Linked DNA regions of Homo sapiens. The protein of the gene in region 1 purifies or fractionates together with the protein of each later gene. This does not show direct contact. Each region holds a gene or a part of one and is shown on either strand. Other genes may lie near its edges.

What was found. Proteins that work in one complex are often made in the same cells at the same time.
Region 2: the proteins of MTERF2 (region 1) and DCX purify together in Homo sapiens (affinity purification with mass spectrometry; 2 studies listed by BioGRID and IntAct, with this or other methods). This does not show direct contact.

The regions. Positions count from the first base shown.
Region 1 is NC_000012.12:106,984,107-106,990,967, forward strand, and holds the start of MTERF2 (transcription termination factor 2, mitochondrial precursor), read right to left. Parts: upstream 3,041-6,861; 5' UTR 2,863-3,040; intron 2,204-2,862; exon of another isoform or gene 1,120-2,203; 5' UTR 1,009-1,119; intron 1-1,008. UniProt on the Homo sapiens protein: Binds mitochondrial DNA and plays a role in the regulation of transcription of mitochondrial mRNA and rRNA species.
Region 2 is NC_000023.11:111,409,193-111,416,697, forward strand, and holds the start of DCX (neuronal migration protein doublecortin), read right to left. Parts: upstream 3,001-7,505; 5' UTR 2,946-3,000; exon of another isoform or gene 2,778-2,945; intron 1,955-2,777; exon of another isoform or gene 1,783-1,954; coding exon of another isoform or gene 1,562-1,782; intron 1,229-1,561; coding exon of another isoform or gene 1,207-1,228; coding exon 843-1,206; intron 1-842. UniProt on the Homo sapiens protein: Microtubule-associated protein required for initial steps of neuronal dispersion and cortex lamination during cerebral cortex development. May act by competing with the putative neuronal protein kinase DCLK1 in binding to a target protein.

The DNA of each region.
Region 1 (6,861 bases):
TCATTATCCAGGGTCATTCCTGCTCCTGTGCTGAGCTCAGCCTCTCTGGCCTGAGAACTCTCAAGCCCTTTCTCAAGTGTTTGCTCCTTCAGGTGTATCCTCCTCTGATGCTCCAGCCATCACTCCACTGCTCTTCCTGTCCTTGCCCAAACCCTCTCTCTCTCCACTGCTCTTCTTTTCCCTGCCCAAACCCTATCTTTCTCTTCACCTCAGCTAATTCTTGCAGATCCTTCTTTCTCTCCATTTCCTCTTCTACTTATATAGCTTGCGATAAAGATAACTTTCATGTGGTTACAGCCAATGAGTAGTTTTCATTCTTATCTCTTTTTTTTGTAGAGAAGGGGTTTCACCACATTTCCAGGCTGCTCTTGAACTCCTGAGCTCAAGCGATCTGCCCACCTTGGCATCCCAAAGTGTCGATTACAGGCGTGATGTGGTTTGGCTGTGTCCCCACCCAAATCTCATCTTGAATTGTAGCTCCCATAATTCCCTTGTGTTGTGGGAGGAACCCAGTGGGAGATAATTAAATCATAGGGGTGGTTTCCCCCATACTGTTCTCATGACAGTGAATAAGTCTCATGAGATCTGATGGTTTTATAAGGGGAAACCCCTTTCGCTTGGCTCTCACTCTTTTCTTGTCTGCCACGATGTGAGATGTGCCTTTCACCTTCCGCCATGATTGTGAGGTCTCCCCAACCACGTGGCACTGTAAGTCCATTAAACCTCTTGCTTTTGTAAATTGCCCAGTCTTGGCTATGTCTTTATCAGCAGCATGAAAAAGGACTAATACAAGCCATGAGCCACCACACCCAGCCTTCCTTATCTCTTTTGACTTCTGCAGCTTTTAGCAGAGTTGACCACTTTCTCCTTGAAATATTCTCTCATTTGACTTCCTGGACACTCGACTTTTTTTGATTCTTCTCCCTTTCTATACTTCTCGCCACCCTCTATCTGTCTCCCATACAAGCTCACCTTCAAGGCTTGGTTCTAGACCTCTCTTCTTCTTACCTTACAGTCTCTCCCCACAGATCTTGTCCTCATCCAGATATTCAGTTCATCCACTTGGGATTCTTTCCAACTTCTTCTCAAAATGTGATCTTGTCAGTTCCCTGCAATAAACTTGCCAATGGCATTTTAGGATAAAGACAAAGTAAAATAAAACATAGAAATGCCTTACCATGGCCTACAAGGCCTCTTTGGGCTCTGCCACCACCCTAATTCCCATTTCCCTCTCCTGCACCAGCTGCATTTGCTTCCTGTCAGTCCCTGGTGCTCTACTGGTTTCTACCATGTGGTCTTTGAAGACTGTGGGCCAGATTCCATGCCCAAAATGCTCCAACTTTTAGGCCTAAGTGTCACTTTCTCAAGGAAACTTTTCTAACCTTCACGAATACATGAAGCCTCCTGTCCCCATTACATGATTTCATGGCACCATGGACTTTTACACTTGCGCACAAGTGGTACAACAGCTGCAGCTGTTCACGTGTTGTTTCTGTCTCAACACTACATGGACAGACTGGTCACCACAGTGTTCCAATGAACTGCTTCCCTATCCTTCACCCAGCTGCCTTCACTGCCTCTAGGAGGCATTCCTGGGCAGGTGGCCTTCTGTGTGCTCTTCCACAGCACCCTGCTCCGGACGCTACTGCAGCACTTATTATGCTCTTACAAGTTCTTCATTCTTCCAACCAGTAGGAATTTTGTTGCTGTTTGTTTGAAGTTCAAGCTGTGTATCAGGCATACTAGGCACAGATCTGCTAAAACAACACTTCTTCACACCTCTGTTTGGATCACAGATCAACTCAGAACCTGAGAGTCACAGACTCTCTTTCCAGAAGAAAAGACCCACGCTCACAACATTTCGCAAATGATTTTAGCAGGATTCATGGACACCCTGCAGCCCGGCCATGAATGACCTGCACTAGATTTACAAGCGTTGGGAAGGCAGGAACTGAACGGTGTTCTGCTTTATTCCCTGCACCCAGCAAAGAACTTGTTCCACAGAGAGACAAAATTAGTATTTGTCAGGTGAAACTGAGTGAACAAGTGGATGCGGTACATTAATGCAGTGGGTAAAACTGGGTTAGCAGAGCCAGACTGCCTGATTCCTGGACAACAGTTGTGTTGTGACTTGAAGAAGTTACTTCACCTCTCTGAGCCTCAGTTTGGCATCAGGAAAATGGTGATACTATCTCCTGGGTGACTGCAAAGATCAAACGAGTTAATACCATAAATCACTTAGAATATGCAGAAAACTCTTCACATATACTAAATCATTAAATCATCACAACAACTCATTTTAAAATGAGGAAACAGACGCAGGTAAAGGAACTTGCCCAAGGTTACTCAGCTAAAAAAAAAAACAAAAAACAAAAAACCGGCAGAATTTGGACTCAAACCCCACAGGTTGGCTCCAGAGTCCTGCCTGCTCTTAGCCCTGTGCCCCCACATATAGCAATGCTTTTGGTAAATGTTTGTTAAATCACAATGTGGGCTGTTCTAGGATGCTTGTTTCTTAAGCATTTTTGGGGAGTGAAATTCACTTCTGTAATACACAGTTATGGTTAGTATGGTCTTCTCTACACCACCACTGGTTTCAATAAAGTTCTTCTTTCGTAACACATATGCCCTGCTGCCAGTTTCAAATTGACCAACGTTTATAAGCAAGGAAAAACGAGGGTCCACGGAAGATCTCCAGGACCGATCAAAAGGCCGCACATTCACTGTGGGGCCTCCGCTTTTCCAGAGAAACCCGGCAGGCTGAGCTGAGCGTCTGGCGAGGCGTGGGGTTTTGCGGGCCCTGACCGCTGCGGCGCCGCTGGTGAGGAACACGCCCAGGAGCAGAGGAAGGGGGCGACTCACCCGTCGGCGTCAGCTCCAAGCAAGGCACAGGGAGTCCCGGGGGCCAGGCCCCGTCCTTCCCTCTCTCTCCGGCCAGCCTCCCCACAGTCCGCAGTCCCCGAGGCCTGGAGCCGGGATTTCGGTCCTCGGTCTCAAGAAGCTCCCGACAGTTCTCAGCAGCGCCAACCAGGCCATCAGTCCCTTCGCCCATGGCCAATCAGGGCTCGGGAGATGACCGCCAACCCCCGCCCCCCCAAGACACGCCCCCGCGTCCCAACGCAGCCAGTCAGAGCGCGGGACACAACTACGCGTCCCTCCCCGCACCACGAGGGCGAGTCGGAGTGGGAATCGGCTTTCCAGGCAGCCCAGCCTGTGCTGGCGGGGGCATCTGGCATTTTCACACCCTTTCCTTCCCAGCATTTTAGGAAGCGGAGTTCCAGTAGCTTTGACGCTTAGAAAATATAAGAAAAAAAAGAAGTAACAGAAACCGCTATATCTTTAAGATAGAGCCAATCACTGTTCCCAAAATAATTCAGTTAGGTAAAGAACCAACTTACAAAAGAAATGTTTAAAAAACCCCCAAAGTTCTTTGAAACACATCTGAACTCTTCCCCGCCCCCACCCTACCCCAGCAGTTAGCGACTGTCTTTAAAAGCCATTCTCCTTTCTCTCCCTCCTTGCCACCTTCACCTAAATACTCCCCTTTTCTGATAAACTGCCAAGTGGTTTCCATTCTAATTATTACCGGTGATGCCCAACCTCATACACTAAACACGTTAATTTCTCCTTAAAGCCAGGCTGAATGTCTCTCTCATTTATTTTCACATTTATCCATCCAAAAAACAAGTATTTATGGCAGGCCTGCTAAGTGCCAAGCATATTGAAACAGCAATGAGAAAATAGAGGGGGAATAAAACACATTCCCTGTCCTTATGGAGCTTACATTCTAGTGGAGGGCAGAGATATCAACAACTAATAACGTGACTAATCACACCTAGTTAAGTGTTATCGAGGACAGGGTGCCCTGAGCTGGGCCTGGTGATTCTGTTTGTGTGGAGTTGGAGTCAGGAAAACTGGTTTTCCCAGCTGGAGGTGTCTGCTGTCAGGTGTTCGTAGCACACTGTGCACAGTTCTGCCGTCGGTGGCACTGGCATACAGACTGCCCTCGCACCCTGTGGAGTGAATTCCTTGAGGCTACTGATTATTTTTTCTGTCAACAATGCTGGGCACACAGTAGGAACTCAGGAAATGTTAACTAAATCTTTGAGTCTAGTCTCACTATGCAGTTTAGGCTCAACAGGCTATATTGAGAGGAGCTCACACGTGCATTTAACTCCACTGAGTAGCAGCAAGAATCCTGGCTCCTCAAGATCACCCACCTCTGATCTCTAGGATATTCTAGAATGATCTGAGCAACTCATGTGTACAGCTGGGGGGTGTTTGTCCAGCAACTCCTGAGTTATCCGAATATAAAAACTCTATTATGCATAGATTTATTGCACACTTTTTCCTGAAATAAAATGATTTGGGGTCCAGACTAACCAAAGTGTGTCATTTGCACTTAGGAAAAGGAAATTAGGATACAGAAAAGGAAGTTAAGGAATGTAAACTCAGGACTTAGAACTGCAAGCTGCCATCACTGGTCAGGAGGGAGGGAGCAGAAATGTGCACCAGGGTGCTGGAAGCTTGTATTAGGGCTCCACGTAATTGTGCAAGGAATTACAATACATATGACCCCGTGCATTGTAATCAAAACTTGAAACTGACAAATCAGCTATGCCAACTGTATTAAATAAATGCTACTCAAAGTTTTTTCCAGCCCAAATATTTAAACAGTGCATTTCTAGGACCATATAATCAGAAAAAAAACCTTGAATGAAGAAAAGGGGAAAAGAACTTACAATTATGCATATTATGTACAAGAAAATTACAAACACATTTGAATTGTGAGAAGATCCTGAAATTTCTAGTATGTAAGAGATGCATTAAAAATACTGATAGACTTTTATATCTCAAATTTACTTATTTATTTTAAGCAAATATGAAAAACATAAGGACTTTGTACAGTTCATTCAAAACCCTGGTTCTCTCAATATAATTTTCCCAAGTTGTCAGTACAGTTTTTGGCAATAAGAATTGAAGAAGTATTTGCTGAATGAGTAAAATGTCTTAAATCCCTTAACCACAAGTAGGATTTCTAGTTAAGGGGAGAACACTGATTCGAACATCATGTATCTGCTCAAGTAGAGCATGATGACTGATGCCTTTTCTTTCCCTTTCAGTGATTCATTTTGACCACTATTTACACCAAACTGAAAAAGCTTTCCAAAAAACTCCCTAATAAAAAAAAAATCCTCTTACATTTATAAATAGCATACCAGTGCTTATGCTGAGATAGTGTTCTTTTACTGTTTATTTATTCACATTAAAACTGAATCTTTGGCCGTGCGCGGTGGCTCATGCCTGTAATCCCAGCACTTTGGGAGGCCGAGGCCAGCGGATCATGAGGTCAGGAGATCGCGACCATTCTGGCTAACGGTGAAACCCTGTCTCTACTAAAAAATACAAAAAATTAGCCGGGCGTGATGGCACGCGCCTGTAGTCCCAACTACTCGGGAGGCTGAGGCAGGAGAATCGCTTGAACCCAGGAGGCAGATGCCGCAGTGAGCCGAGATCGTGCCACTGCACTCCAGCCTGGGCGACAGAGTGAGACTCTGTCTCAAAATAACAACAAGAAAACTGAAATCTATGACCTCTTGTACGGTGATGGTAAATCTCAGGTCTATGAATTTCTCAACTCTGCACTGTACAACCAGGTCCAAAGAGTAGGATGTGAGGTACACTTACCATAAAAAACAATTAAAATATTACTTCACTTTAACAGTGGTGAAAAAAGAACGATAAAGCACAGGATTTTTTCTTATTCTTTTTCTCGGTAATGGATTTCCCACCTGCCGCCCCATCCCCGAGACAAGGTCTCACCCTGTCATCCAGGTTGGAGTGCAGTGGTGCAATCATAGCTCACTGCAGCCTCAAATCCCCTAGATCAAGCCATCCTCCCACCTCAGCCTCCCAAGTAGCTGGGACCATAGTGCACACCACCACACCTGGCTAATATTTTTGTTGTTTCCTTTTGTAGAGATGGGGTCCCAAGATGTTGTTCAGGCTAATCATTTTTTTTTTTTTGAGACAGAGTCTCACTCTGTCGCCCAGGCTGGAGTGCAGTGATGTGATCTCGGCTCACTGCAAACTCCGCCTCCTGGGTTCATGCCTCAAGTGATTCTCCTGCTTCACTTCAGTTTCCCAAAGTGCTAGAATTATAGGCATGAGCCACCCTGCCTGGTCTTCTTTACTTTTTTTTTATTTTTATATTGATTTTTTAAAAATAGAGATGGGGTCTTGCTAAGTCTCCAGGGCTGGTCTCAAACTCCTGGCTTTAAGTGATCCTCCCGCCTCAACCCCACAAAGTGCTGGGATTACAGGCAATGAGCCACCACACCCAGCTCAGATGAGGTCTTGATCTGTCCACCCAGGCTGGAGTACAGTGGCACAATCATAGCTCACTGCAGCCTTGACCTCCTGGGCTTCAGTGATCCTCCCACCTCAGCCTCCAAAAGTGCTGGGATTATAGGCGTGAGCCACCACACCTAGCCTCAGTAATGGAATTTATTGATCATTGTTAATTCACTATCCAGGATATTTTTAAAAATGCATATCATCTAAAATGTTATCGTTTCTGTATTTTTACTCAACTTTTATCTTCAGTTATCTTTAAATTATCATACTAAATATCTATCATGATTAATGATGGGAAAATGAAAAGCCACTGGTTATAATTCAGAATGGCAAGAACTAACCTACTAGAGAACACTAAAGGGATAATAACAATACTAATAAAAATAATGGCAGCTAACCAGAGCTGTGGCATACAGCTATGCAGACTGTGCACTGTACACGACAGGGGGTGACACAGCATGGCAGCCCTGTGGCTAACACTGAGTACCCTATCACATGCCAGCT
Region 2 (7,505 bases), on another chromosome or scaffold:
AATGTTAAAAATGTGACCCAAGATCTATTTTCTAAATGACCACAAAGAAGACTCTATGGCTGGGTAAGTTCTGGTAAGAGGTAGGATTTTCCCTATTTTGAGGTGGGTACACAGGTTGTTGGGATTTTTGGCAATCTACTCAGAAAATTTAGTTGCCACACAAAAATCTATAGAGGTTATAAGGGGATTTAGGTATAGTGAGTCAAATCCTATTCTAATAGGAATGGTCTTTATTAAAATACCAGACATACCTACAGCTTTCTTTGGTATTTCTCCCAATGACCTCAGCCTTAGGGACACACCCTAAAGTAGGCTTTTTAGAAGCAACAGCTGAGCCGCGACCACTTACCTAAAAGAATAATCCTCTGTGAATATGTCCAGGAAATCCTGCTCTTAGGGTGCATATTTCCAATGAGTTGCAATTCACAAATAATTTCTCAGCAGTTCAAAGAAAATTTGGGCATAATATTTTCTCTGTTAACCCAACCAAATGTCCTTCCTCGTTATACCCTTAATGATTTCATGCTCTGCCTCAATAGTGCTACTCAGAGTTAATTATGAACAAAATCTAGAGTAAATGCTACAATTAAGATTTTCCTTTTTATACCCTGGCAGATAAGCACAATGCATGATCACCACCATTCACACTTCAACCTCAGCAGAGACTGAAGGGTGATTGCTAATGGTTCTGTTGATGTCTATAGCATTAGAAATTTGAGCATCAATCAACCCGGTGTTTTGAAAAATACATTGCCTAATTTTTTTTCAAAGCAACCGAAGAATGTAACCATAACCAATGATGCCACCTCCCACCAACGGCCACCACCCACTATTTAAATTACCTTCCTCCAGTTCATCCATGCTTCCGATCTTCCTGGATCCATCAATGGTGTAAATGTAACGCACTCCCTGAGGCAGGTTGATGTTGTCAGACAGAGATCGCGTCAGGTCAGCCAGCAAGGCGTCAAAGCTGCGAAAACGGTCAGAGGACACAGCGTACACAATCCCCTTGAAGTAGCGGTCCCCATTGCGGTAGAAACGTACCTTCTTGGCTTTCTTCTCATTACTCAGTGCCTGCAAGGTTCTGGTTCGGTAGAAGCTACAGTGGGCGCTGTGAGTGGGGCTAGGCAACCCATTCATCCGGGAGCCTCGCATGTTCCTGGATGTCTTATCTCTTTCGTCAAAGTGTCCAAAATCAAGTTCCATATTTTGGTGGAACCTCAGAGACCTGAGCGTGGGAGAAAGGGATGGGGGTGAAGAGAGGCAAAAACAAAAAGGGACAAGGAGAAGGAAAAAAGAAGGGATTTTAAATATTAGCCAGATCCAGATCTGCAATCTGCTGCTTGTGAAAAGAACTGGTTGAAAAAAGCCTGTGACCCATCTGCTGCTTGCCCCTGACCTGCAGGAATATTGATCTTAATAGAGAAGAAGGAGGGGCTGGGCGGGGGTGCTGGTGGTTGTGGGGGTTGGGAGTAAGAGATAGAGAGGGAGGCACTCTTGGCACTGTTCCAGACAGAGGAGAAGGGGAGATTTTGAAATAGCTGAAAATCCTGAGACTTACTGACAGTGGCTCCTATCAAATTGGAACTTCGGGCTAAATACATTAAAACTGGCATCTGTTTCCTCACACATGCCCACATGACTAACAGTTGTAAATGAATCCATAGCCTGACAAAATTCCCCTTGAAGAGAACAGAAGGAGCTACCCAAGGTTAGCATCTCCAGCTTAGGAAGCAGTCTTTGCATTTCAGTACAATGACTATGAAGGGGGAGTGTTTTCATTTTATTCCAAGCCCTCTTTCCTACTCTAATGTGTGCATCCCCTCCCCCCAGAATAAACTAAGATTCTCCTTTAAAGGGACAGCCTCCAGGGAACAGCCAGTGTCTTTGTGCTATTCATCAAACCCTTTCCCCACCAAGCTGGTGCAGCTATCCGACATTCATAAGAAATAAGCTGGGGGGAAAAAGGATTAGAAAAATAAGTTATTTAACAAGTTACTAGCTCTGTCTTCCCCCGGTTCCATTTGTTCACAAAATCCTTTTTTTTCCCCCCCAGGTGCTCCACCCCCTCCCCACTGATGCAGCAACACCTCTTAATGGAATAATTTAATTGTTGAAAGATTCACAAATGACTCTCCGAACAGCATACGGGACCTTTAGAAGGAAGCACACCTTTCATTGTTCTGGGTTTCTACCTTAATTGAAGTGACATTTACCCTCACAGCAGGCAATTCACCCCAAACTTGTATATTGCCCAGGTGCATTAGCTGAGAAAAGATGGTCATTTGTCAGGCTTTGCTTTTCTCCCTTCTGTTGAACCCCCTCCCCCACCAAGAACCCCAAACAATCAAAACATGAAACCCAATACAACTGAAGCCACAAATGCTAGCAAATGTAGTGACATCCTACGAGCCAAACTATTAACATGCATCTCACAGATGGGGATAAAAGGACTCACAAAGCAAGCAGGGCTCAGCTGCTACACACTGCCACATCAATATATTTGCAAGGGACCAGGAGGACAGGAGATAAGAAAGACTGGTGCCTAATGGGTCTGCCAGGCTCAATTCCGCCTTTTTTCCAATGTCACCATGACCTATGCTGAGCTCAGCATTGTCTCTGTCAGACAACCTGCAGTGGTAAGAGACCCCACCTCCTCAAGGCAAGCAGCAAACATTTCCCCAGGCATGCCAGTAAGGCTTTGCTTTGCTTTAGGATCAGAGGTAGTATTATTCTAAATTAACATCACAGTGAAAACAAAGGAACATCAAACTCACTTTTCCAAAGGAAAATCCCAGGTAGAAGCTTAGGGAAAAAATCGGATAGAATAAGGCAAAAAAGGAGAAGAGGAGACAGAGAGACAGAGAGAGCAGGCTTTGCCTTGTGCTTTTCCCGTTTGACATCTGTTACATTCTTCTTGAAAATCACTTAAAAGCCCCACTCACCGGTTTTCTGCTGGTTGGGTGGAGATGCTGAGAGAAAGAAAACCAATCTCTCTATGCCTTTGTTGTCTGAGCTCCAAGCAAGAAATTCCTGCCAGGGTGGATAGATGCCTTCTAGGTCCTAGTGCCTTGTCCAGCTTCTCCCATGTAACTCAGGCTTAGTGAATCCCCCCAACCTCCTATGATTAATTACATGCTTTTAAAAAAATTCACAGGCTGCATTAACAGCTAGAAAGGTTTCATTTATAACCAACAGGAAATTGCGGGGTAGCAAAAAGATTGCGCAGACAAAATCAGAATGCTCTAATGAGCAATGTGCTAGCCCTTTCTTTTAGAAAATTGGCAATTTCACTTGGCCAAAACCTTGGCCTAATCTGCCTGGGGGCCAGACTCAGACAGCCAAGCCAGGCTTCTTAGAAATTGTAGCTCTCTTCCTTTTACCCTCTTGAGAGAAAAAAAATAAAATAAAATCTGCAGATTCTTTAAGGCAGTTTAGCTCAAGTATCCAACAACTGGTTTTTTGTTTTTTAATGAAGTCAACAAAGTAGACTAAGAGGAAGTAGGATAGGAACAAAACAAGGGAAAATAATTTTAGAATATTATGGAAGATAGAAGTAAAAAGGACATCCCAAATCTATCAGCTTGGTGTAAGAATTTGGTTAATGAAAGGTTAATGTGGCATTTACCTTTGAGAGTTTGGAAGTTCAAACCCAACCCAAAGACCTTTCTATGTGAAGTAAATCTGATGGCTACAAAATAAATATTAACAGATTTCTCCTCAAACTGCTTATTTGTCACTAACTGACTTCTTTATATAAAATATGTTACAAAAAAAACTCAAGGAAGCATCCAAATTGAACTAATTAGATCAGGCCGAACTATAAAACAAAAGAGAAAGGTGAGAGGTTAAATGGGGTAGGGGGATGCTACCATCTTCACAATTGAAGCTACATGCATCAATATGTAGCAGCCTTGAACTATCATGGTTCTATTTTTGCTTGGCTTCCAGGAAGCTCAGAGCTAAGAGCATGCTCAGTAATTATTTTATATCTGATTCCTAGTATAATTAACCCTTCCTTTTATATAGTGCTGTTGAACTTTTATATTTAAGCATTTTCTCTGCATGTGTTTTATTGTAAGCTGCCACCAAGTGGGATAAAATATATGATGGTCTTTCTTCTGTGAAAGGTGTTGACTCAGCAAAGCCTGGAACTGTCTGTTAGTTGAGTGGATAGCCTCAAATGTGCAACCTACCTAGTTAAGTCCCCCCAACACCTTGCTGCTGATTTCTTGGTTACTATACAAGTACCTCAGGGGAATGCATGTGTCTGCCCTGTTTTCTTCCATGTGTTGTTGCCTTACCTTGTGGCAACCTCATGAAAAATCAACATTATTCAGGCTAGAGGCAAAGAAAAATCAAGGAATAAGGGCAGGAAAATATGGAAATTCCAACAAAGCTAATGTCTTAAAACTTCTTTCTTGCACATCATAAGCATTCAGTAAATATGTAGCAATTAATTTTGCATCAGAACTAAAAATCATTTTATTTCTGGTGAAGATACAACAATGGATGGGATAATAAAACTTAAACACGAACCATTTGGAATGTATTTCAGAGGAAAATTCCTCATAATATAGGCTTTGCAATGCTACTGTGGAAGCTACAAAATGTTTTTATGAGACAGCCTAGGATAAATGACTTTGTTTGCTTTATATATAATAGAGAGCAGAGGGATAGGCAGGATCAATATTTCCTTGTTTGAGATATGTGGGCATTAATAGGTGTTCCTTAAAAACAGGAAAAAAAATTCTGTGGTCAAAAATGTCTGAAAAGTGTTGCGCTAAACGAAGATAATTTTGCTTATCATAAAACTTGTCAGGGCCTTTAATATAAACTATAAAATGTGTCTCAAAAAGAAAACAATTTGGTATACAGGGCTTCCACTTATTTTTAAAGCTCAGAACCTTTTGGTCGCCCCAGAACATGGACTAATGTTCTGCAGGGATAAAAAACTTTTGCAAAAACTGGACTAGATCATCTCCAAAGATATTTCTTCTCAAAGAACTCTCAGCTACTTACCAAGACCTTCTTTCTCACTTCTTCAGAGGAAACAGGCCATTGGCAAAGAGAAGGTCTCAGATGTGAGTCCAGGGAAAAAGTAAATCTTTAAATATGGAAATCAACTTTGAAGGTCAAGGGAAAGTCACGGTTGAGGGAGTGAAGTGATTTAAGAAAAAGAATAGCAACTCTATGTTGGAAATGTAGCAATACGACCTTTTGATTACTTACCATGTGCCCTGTACCACAGGCAAGACAGTGTAGGAAACATCCATCACTGCCCCTGAGGGGCTTGACGACTCATTGAGGAAAGGAGATAGCACAGGACTATGCATCTTGCAAAAATCATGAAGAAGGGATTAGATCTTTCTTGATATACTGCAGTCTGGGTTAATCAAACTCAGCTTAAAGAGCAGGGTCAAGAAATTTCTCATCCATCTCTCTCTCTCTCTCTCTCTCTCTCTCTCTCTCCCTCTCTTTTACTCTCTCTCTCTCTCTCTCTCTCACACACACACACACACACACACACACACACACACACACACAAAATACCAAAAAAATTATTAGTTTATGTTACCAATCAGAAGCACAAAGAGTAGGATCCTGTGTGGGACAGAGTAAGCAAACAGGAAACGAGGTTGGACTTTCCCTTGACCTTCAAAGTTGACTTCCATATTTAAAGATGTACTTTTCCCCTGGACTCACATCTCATATCACAAGATTGCTTATGCATAGGGCCTTTATTGAGAAAATCATAAAACTATTGAAAAACATAACAGAAGCTGTTAATAAATGTAAAGTCAGACCAGGCTCATGGATAACAAGATGCAATGCTGTAAGGTATCAATCCTCCCCAAAGTAATCTATACATATGAAGAAATTCCAATAAAAGCCCCAACACGAATTTTTGTGAAACTCAAAAAATTACTTCAAAATTTTTGTGGAAGAATATAAAACTCTAAGAGTAGCCAAGATCATTGTAAAAAAGAGAAATCAGAAGCCAATAACTGCCCTACAAAAATTTGTTATAAAGCTATAGTAATGAAGATAGTGTGGTGTTGGCCTGGAGGACAGACAAAGATTAATTAAACAAAACAGAGATCAGCATAAACAGGAACTTGCTATATCATAAGATAATGGGAAAAGCATGGACTCTGGAGCCAGACTGCCTAGGTTCAAATTTTGATTCTACTAATTATTAGCTAGGGACCTTGGGTGAGGTACTTAACCCTCTGTGCTTCACTTCACCCATCTGTCACACGAAGGTGATGATAATAATAGTAGCATTCTCAGTTGTTATGAGGATTAAATGAGCAAATATATGTATAGTGTTTAGAACAGACCCTGGCACATAGTATGTATAAGTATTAACTTTTATTATCCCCCGAATATTCATATGCCAACTCCCTCACTTCTTTCAAGTCTTCACCCAAAGGTTGACTTCTCAACAAGACCAACCTAGACTACCTGATTTAAAGTTACAAACTTCCCTCTCAACCTAGCAGTTCAAAATTTTTTTACTCTCTTTATTTTTCCATAACATTTATCACCTCCAACATACTACGTAATATACTTATTAATTACATATTTCCTGAAGGTATAATATAAGCTTCAACAGGGTAGGAATATTCTAACAGCTTTAATGATATATATAATTTACATTACCAATAGGACTACTTTTGTCTATATTTTTAATATTGCATAATTAACTTTCTAGAACAATACCTAACACACAATAGGTTTGGATATTTGTTGAATTGCATAAAGTAAGGAACACATAGAGTATTCAATAGATAGTATTAAGTCAATTAACTTTCATATAAAAAAAATCAAATTAGATACTCCCCTTATACTATACATAAAAATAATCTCCAGATGTTTTAAAGACCTGAATAAAGAACAAAACTTTAAAATTATTGGAAGGAAGCATAAAAGGTTTCCTTTAAATCCTTACGGTAGAAAAGAATTTCTTAAGACACAGAAAGCAGAGATCTTATAAGAAAATATTGATAAATTGATTTCATAAACATTTACAGCTTCTAACGGCAAAAGACAGCATTTAAACATTAAAAAATAAATAATAGACTGAGAAAAAATATTTGAAACTTAAATATCTGACAGAAAGTTAGTGTCCTGATATCTATATATGACACATAGATATTGATATAGTTTGTATTTTTGTCTCTGCCCAGTCTCATGTTGAATTGTAATCCCCAATGCTGGACCTGGTGGGAGGTATTTGGATTGTGGGGGTGGATCCCCCATGACTTGGTGCTGTCTTCCTGATAGTAAGGTCTCCTGAGATTTGGTCTTTTAAAAGTGTGTGGCACCTCCCCTCCAATGCACTCATGCATGAGTGTTCTTTCTCTCTCGCTCACTCTCGCTCTCTTGTTCTCTCGCTCTCTTGTTCTCTCGCTCTCTTGTTCTCTCGCTCTCTTGTTCTCTCGCTCTCTTGTTCTCTCGCTCTTGCTCCAGCTTTTGCCATGTGAAGTGCCTGCTCCCAC